2 linked regions of the Homo sapiens genome follow. The protein of the gene in region 1 purifies or fractionates together with the protein of each later gene. This does not show direct contact. Each region holds a gene or a part of one and is shown on either strand. Other genes may lie near its edges.

Region 1 (3,818 bases):
GACTTGCTCAAGGTCACACAGCTCATGAGTGGTACCCCAAGACCCAAACCCAGGCAGCTGAATTCCCAAGTGCCTGCTTTCAAGGACTGTTCTTACCTGTCGGATGTTGAGGCAGGGTTTTGCGTGTCCCTAGGACACAGGCTGAGGGTCTGCTGCGATTGTAGGCTTCTTGAGTGCAGCTGCATCTGAATTGACCCCGGAGTTAAGGTGGAAAGGCTTTGAGTGAGACAGAATGGGGTGGGGGTGTGGGCTGTGTGCAGGTCCCATCTTCCCATCTTGATGATAAGTTCCTCAAGGGGACCATCTGCCCACACATTTCCCTCTGCCTGTATGGTGCTCAGTGAATGAATGATTGCGTGGTCATGGGGCATTCATTTCTTCAGCTGATGTTCATCAAACACCTGATTTATCCAGGACACCATGCTAGGACACCATGCTAGGAATTATGGGTACATGAAAATGACCAGGACATGATTTTGCCTACGAGGAACCTGTGGTCCATTAAGGGGGAAAAGATGCATTCATTGATAGTACAAAGCAGGAATTAACGCCAAGAGATTCATATGAAGGACTCTTGACCCTGACAGGAGGCAGGGGTCACTGCTGACTGGGAGGGTCACAGGGAGGTAGCATTTGGACTGAGCTTTGTTTCTTGGGTAGGATTCAGGTTGCAGGGATGGTGTGGGGTGCAGGAGGAAGGAACAGCTTGGGCAGAGGCCCTGAGGTGGGGCAGTGGTGCAGGTGTCTGTGCGGGATCATGATGATGGCTTCCTTCCCCCTCGGGCTCCTGGCAGGAGTGTGTCATCTTCTGTGTGCGGGAGGAACCTGTGCTTTTCCTGCGTGCAGATGAGGACTTTGTGTCCTACACACCTCGAGACAAGCAGAACCTTCATGAGAACCTCCAGGGCCTTGGACCCGGGGTCCGGGTGGAGAGCCTGGAGCTGGCCATCCGGAAAGAGGTGAGGACCAGTGCGGTGTGCGGGAGACCCCAGCCCACAGCCCAGCTTTGCAGATGCTCTTTTTGGGGCCAGCTCACCTGCTCTTACTGGCCCGTGTTCCCCCACTGTTGTGCCCTGCTTGGGTGAGTGGCTGGCTGCAAGGCTGACTCACGGGCAGCCAGAGGAAGGACTTCCTATTCTAGCTCTCTTTGCCTCTGCCCCTTTCCCACCCTGCTTGTCTCCTTGATGCTCAATGTCCTTATTTAGAAAGGGGTCTGGTGGGCCGGGTGCAGTGGCTTATACCTGTAATTCCAGCACTTTGGGAGGCCGAGGTGGGCAGGAGTTCAAGACCAGCCTGACCAACGTGGTGAAACTGTGTCTCTACTAAAAATACAAAAAATTAGCTGGACGTGCTTGCGCATGCCTATAATCCTAGCTACTCGGGAGGCTGAGGCAGGAGAATTGCTTGAACCTGGGAGGCGGAGGTTGCAGTGAGCCGAGATCACACTACTGCACTCCAGCCTGGGCTACAGAGTGAAACTCTTTCTAAAAAAAAAAAAAGAAAAAGAAAAAGAAAGGGTTCTAGGTGAGTGAAAAGAGCGCTAGACCAGAAGGACCAAGGCTGCAGTTCAACGCTTTGAGAGCCACGAGCCTCTGAGTCAGTTCCCTCAGTGGGTCTGTGGGCCTGTTTCAGTATCCTCTGTCCTCCTCCTCCTCCATAACACAGAGGCTTGTGGAGGCCTCTGAGGCAGCTGACATACCATGAAGGTGTGTGAATAGAGTGTGGGGTCCCAGTGTCCCCAGAAACTTCCAGGTCAGGAACCGAGGCCATGCCGGCGCCCAGCTCTTTGCCTCTCCCATCCCCTCCAGGCCTCCTGTGTGCTCTGCTCCCCTCGGCTCCAGCTCCCAGCTGACCACACCTCCCCCGTCCTGGCACTGGTGGCTTTGTGAATTCCTGCACCCACTGGGCAGAGCCCTCCTGCCTTGCCCCTGTGTAGGCACCCCGATTCCTTCAGAACTCCCAGGAATGGCATAGAGAGCACTTCTGGCTGTGTAGTTCCCTCATGGGGGGCAGAAGCCTGCCTGTGGCCTCTGCATGGTCTGGTCACTCCAGAGCTCAGCCAGGACACTCAGGGAGGGTCTTGAAGTTCAGGCCATGGCCCTCTGACCCCCACACCTCCCTCTAGATCCACGACTTTGCCCAGCTGAGCGAGAACACATACCATGTGTACCATAACACCGAGGACCTGTGGGGGGAGCCCCATGCTGTGGCCATCCATGGTGAGGACGACTTGCATGTGACGGAGGAGGTGTACAAGCGGCCCCTCTTCCTGCAGCCCACCTACAGGTACCACAGGGCCACCCCCAGCCCTGGCCATGGGTGCTCCAGGTCCTGCTCTCCAGCTGCAGCCTCAGTTTCACCATCTGCAGGTTGGGCGGAGTCCCCCACACCCATGTCTCCCACAGTGGGGCCCATTTCCAAACAGTGCCCGGGAATAGGGGGTGAGGGGGATTCCCAGAGTGGGTGCCTGCCTGATGGCTGCTCTCCCTCACCTGGCAGGTACCACCGCCTGCCCCTGCCCGAGCAAGGGAGTCCCCTGGAGGCCCAGTTGGACGCCTTTGTCAGTGTTCTCCGGGTAACTGGGGCACGGGCGCGCATGGGGGAGGAGTCTTGAGAGTCGTCCCCATGGAGGTGCTCAGGGTGGGCACAGCCTCTCGCCTTCCTCAGAGGAAGGCTTCATTCTGTGTTGTGTATGTGAGCATGTTAGGGTGGACGTGTGTTGGTGTCTGTCTCTGTATATGTCTGTGTGTGTCAGCGCCTTTGTGTGTGTCTGTGGGGAGTGTGTGTACATGTTTATGTGTCTCTCTGTGTGTCTGTGTGTTCCTGTCTGTGTGTCTCTGTGTGGGGATACATGTGTTTCTGTGTGTGTATGTGTCTGTGTGTGTATGTGTTTGTGTGTGTGTACCTGTATGTAGGTGTGTGTTTGTGCATTCTCTTATGGCAGAGTCCATCACTGACCGCTGGCCCAGCTGCTGGCCGTGGCTGGGCTGCCAACTTGCTGTGTGGTCCCGGACTAATCACCTCACCTCTCTAGACCTCAGTTCCTCCTTTCTTTAGTGGAGCTAACGACTCTTGCCCTATAGACTGTTCAGCTGACATTTCCTGAGTCCTGGCGGAGTTTCTCTCCAGCCCCCTTCAGGGCATTATCTTATTTCACTGGCATCTTGCAGAAGGTGTTAATACTGGCCTGGTGCCCTCTGAGTCGCTCTCACTTCCAGTTCTTTGAGCTCCTCCAAGGCCTGGGGAGGGAGCAGGTGGAGCTGATCAGGCTGTGGCTTTGGCAGAAGAGGCCAAGACACCTATTGGAGCCCACTTTGCTGCAGACTGTGGGGCAGGGTGGGCTGATGTCATGCTTTTCTCCCTGCTCAGGCCTCAGCCCAGGGTTTCCTGGTCTCACTGGGGCCTGATCCTCATGGTCTTTCCCAGGAGACCCCCAGCCTGCTGCAGCTCCGTGATGCCCACGGGCCTCCCCCAGCCCTCGTCTTCAGCTGCCAGATGGGCGTGGGCAGGACCAACCTGGGCATGGTCCTGGGCACCCTCATCCTGCTTCACCGCAGTGGGACCACCTCCCAGCCAGAGTGAGTGGCCCGGGGCCCAGCGTCCTGAAGGGCTGTGGGGCCGAGGAGGGGACAGGCTGCCCCACAGTGTGGGGACATGTCTAGGAGCCCAGAGCCAGAGCTGGAAATTTGGCATCTGGGGTTCATTTCCTGGTTTGCCACGAGACTTGCTGGGAGACCTGGAGAAAGTCACCTGACCTTTCTGGGCCTCAGTTTCCCTAGTTGGGGAAATGTCCCCTGCTTCCCACAATGTGATTCAGA
Region 2 (3,716 bases), on another chromosome or scaffold:
GGTTTTTACATGTTAAATCCATCCCCATAGAGCCTCTTCTTCCATGACTACTGACTATGGGAGCCCTGCACCCAGAGGTGTAAAATGCAACCAAATGGAAGTCAGAAGAGCAAAAGAAGCTCACCTCAGATTGAGGCAAGGAATGAAATTTTACTGCAACTTTATGCATCATCTGAGCTTCAAACAAACGGTACTTTTGCAAAAGAAGAAAAAAATTAAAGTTATATAGTGCTGCAATGTTTAAGGGCAAGAACAGTAAGATAATATCATCAGGTATATTCTGGCCAAGTGTGCCCCATTTAGTGTGGAATATTAAATTGAATAAAAAATGAAAAAGTTAAAAAATAGAAACCATGTCAAAAGGGATTGTTTTTCAACTAAAAGAGATCCAGCCTACCCTTTTTTTAAAAAAATTGGTTCTTACCTACCATAGGCTACAATTCCATGGGGTGCAGAGAAAGTAAGACTGAACTAATAAAGGGGTTCTGCAAACACATTGTGAAAATTACTGGCCTAGAGTTTTGAAACTTTCTTTCTAGAAAACCAAATTTAAAATTATATATCTTTACTAATCAAAAAAGAGTAAGTATGCCATATCTTATACTATTAACCCCCCTATTTTTGCCACAGAGTTTCACCTGTCTTTCAGGAAAAAACAAAACAAAACAAAAAAAGCTACAAATTTTTATTTAGCTATTATTAAGGAACGTAGGCACACGGACAGAACAGGTCTCATAGGTAACCAGTTGTGTTTCCTAATAGGGTGAATACATATCATTGCCATGAATACATCTTTTATCATAAAATGCCAATGAGCATCAAAAGTAAATGGTTTGATTGTTGTTGTCACTGTTTTGTTTAAGAAAAATAGGGCCTTAAAATAAGTGCTTCAGTGGAATTCTTGAACAGTAAGTAGCCTGTTGATAGTGGACCTAGTTTAAAGCACCACACAACAATGTGTGTTTACATCACCCCTTTATTTCATAGTTAGAAATAATACAGTTCCACAGGGTAAATTGTCAATAAATAATGGTGTTTAATCATTAAACATAAAAATCCCACTCTTTGGCATCTGACAGGATTCTATTTCTTGTCAAACTAATGACTGTATAGATATAGCTAATCTTAGTGATCATTCGTCAATACAATATGTTACAAAGGTGCAATTTACTTTAAAATATACAACAGCGAAACATTTCCAGCCCAACGAGAAATCTGATCAACTTAGTAAGATATGGGCCAACTTCCCCAAGGCTCTTTCACGTAGTTTGCCTTAATGAAAGTGTAATAAACGTTGATTAAGAGTTCCTAGGGTTTTCTAATACTTACTTTGCTCTAAATAGAGTTTGCCATTCATTCTGGCTAAAGAAAAATCACAATTGCACCAGGAATGACCCACTCATTAATTAAAAGGTGTTCTTATTTTATAAGCAAGATTGCTAATACCTAAGAAACTCACAGACCCCAAAATAAAAAGCAGTTCTGTGCTGCCAGAAATCCCAATTCAGTAATAAATTGCACCTTTAAGAGTCAAAAATGAGGGAAAAAAGAAATGGAACGTTTACAAAAGGTAAGTTACATACATTTTTTTTTCAAAATATATTCAAGAATAGTTGAGCTGTATTTGTTACTAAACCCAGGGCATTATTTCTTTAGCAACAAATTAAACCAGTGCAATTGACATAAATTGTTAAGTAATCCAGGATTAACCCATTAAAACAGTAGAAGCACGTTAGGCTCCTACACTAATCCTAGAAACTGGAATTTCAGTGAGTGCTTGTGTTACACAGAACTAAAACTGCAATGACCTGATGCCATGCTGAATGGTATCACTTCATACTTAGTTTAATCATTCAATAGTACAAATCATGAGTTCCTCTATTAAACTATTATTCACTTACAGAAAATTCAGATGCAAACAGTATTATGCCTATAATCCACAATTAAAAGAATCCTTTCCCATTTAAAGTTCCAGGTGAATTTTAAGTTAGAAAATAAGCACTAAGGAGAGTTTTTTCAACTTATGAAAACGTCATATTGGAAACTTTCTGGAAAAGTTTCCCCCGCCCACCCATTGTAAAATAAATACTTTGTATCCCAAATTTAATTTTATTAAGACACACTTTAATAACGCTATAAAGAAATATTTTACAGCCATAGAGATCAATAACTTTCCATGCGGAAATAAAAAATTCATTGCTCAATAACATTATTGAGGCAAGTGAAGAAAGATTACTCTCTTGTCAATCTGAAATGTTAATTTTTTCAGTGCAAAACCAGTTATAAAATATTTAAACTCAATATTTAAAAATAAAAAGTGGTCCAATTCAGCAATGTTCAAGTTCTAAATTTCATAAAACAAATCATTACATACATTTTATAGTAAAATACAGAGATTCAAGAAGTACTTGAGTACTGAAGATATAAATTTCTAATGAATCATATCAAGTCAGCAACAACCAAGCAGGTAACATTCCCAATTTGAGTGTCAGAATCATAAAGATGAAATTACTGTACCAAAGCCTTTTTTTCCTAGCTAAAAAGCTATACAAACTAACAGTCAACATTCTGTTTTCTTTGCAGTTGCGTGCTCTAGAATGATATCCCCCCCCCAAGTACCTGTGATTTCATTCCTGTATTCAAATTTGACCCAAACAATTTTTATGTTCCAGGAACACTTAGCTGATATAACCATCTATAGTGTGAAGAGTCATGTACAGAGTACAGCAGTGGGTTTTTTCTAGCCAAGCGTAGGCTGACCTAAATTGGTTTAAGCTCTCTCCAAGTCATTCATGTATTATTCCTAGCAAACACACGGTCCCCTCGGAGGGTTAGGTGTTGAAGCTGGTACTGTAGCACTTCTGTATCAGCTGGCTCCTTGATCATTTTATCTAGATTGAGGTAGTCCAGAGATTTGGAGTGAGCCCTCTTACCTTTAAGAAGACAAAGAGGCAGAGGCCCATGGAGGGCCTTGTAAGGTTCATAAGGTAAAGATTTAGTGCACTTGTCTCCTGAGCTTGGCATCCGCCTTCGCCTCCTGCCATTGACAGCTGGAATCTCGTATGGCTGGTAGTACCTACTTCTGGTTTTATACAAACGAGAGGAACGGGCAAGTCCTGCATCTAGCTGTTTGGAGCGTAAGGATGGCATGGCTTCTGCTTTGCTCTCTTCACCTCCTGTGCACTTCTGAGCTAACTTCAGGAGTTCCTCGCCAGTCGTGAAGCCAACCAAATAGTTAGAGTCCATGTGTAGGATCTGGTAGCCTGACACGGTCCTCCGCATCGGGGAGCAGGGTGTGCTGGAGCAGCGGGGCTTCTCTGCCTCCGCCTTTCCCGGGGAGTTGGCCTCAGCCCCAGGGAAGGGCAAGGTGGTCAGGGTACTTCTAGACTCTCCATTAATATCGACTTCCATTTTAAGCACCAGTCTGCACAATCCTAAAAGTAAACAGACTTAGATTAGAAGAATATAATGCACAGAGACTTGGGCCAGGCCAGGTCCTTTTAGAAGGCTCAGGGAGCATGAAGTAACACTTGCCTGAAAGACAGTCAATGTACCACTGACATGTAACTATGTCTACTAAACGTTTCAGAGCGGGCATGAAATGACAATACCTCTCTGCCTTTAAGAACTGAAAGGCAAGTTAAATTAAAGTCTGATGTACTACCAAAAAGTTCAGATGGAGAAGCAAACAGAAAACAACAACAACAATACTTCTC

The links.
Region 2: the proteins of PALD1 (region 1) and MACIR purify together in Homo sapiens (affinity purification with mass spectrometry; one large-scale study listed by BioGRID and IntAct). This does not show direct contact.

Annotation. Positions count from the first base shown.
Region 1 is NC_000010.11:70,530,496-70,534,313, forward strand, and holds part of PALD1 (paladin), read left to right. Parts: intron 1-794; coding exon 795-959; intron 960-2,125; coding exon 2,126-2,286; intron 2,287-2,499; coding exon 2,500-2,575; intron 2,576-3,426; coding exon 3,427-3,578; intron 3,579-3,818.
Region 2 is NC_000005.10:103,275,615-103,279,330, reverse strand, and holds the end of MACIR (macrophage immunometabolism regulator), read right to left. Parts: intron 3,435-3,716; 5' UTR 3,412-3,434; coding exon 2,791-3,411; 3' UTR 671-2,790; downstream 1-670. UniProt on the Homo sapiens protein: Regulates the macrophage function, by enhancing the resolution of inflammation and wound repair functions mediated by M2 macrophages. The regulation of macrophage function is, due at least in part, to its ability to inhibit glycolysis.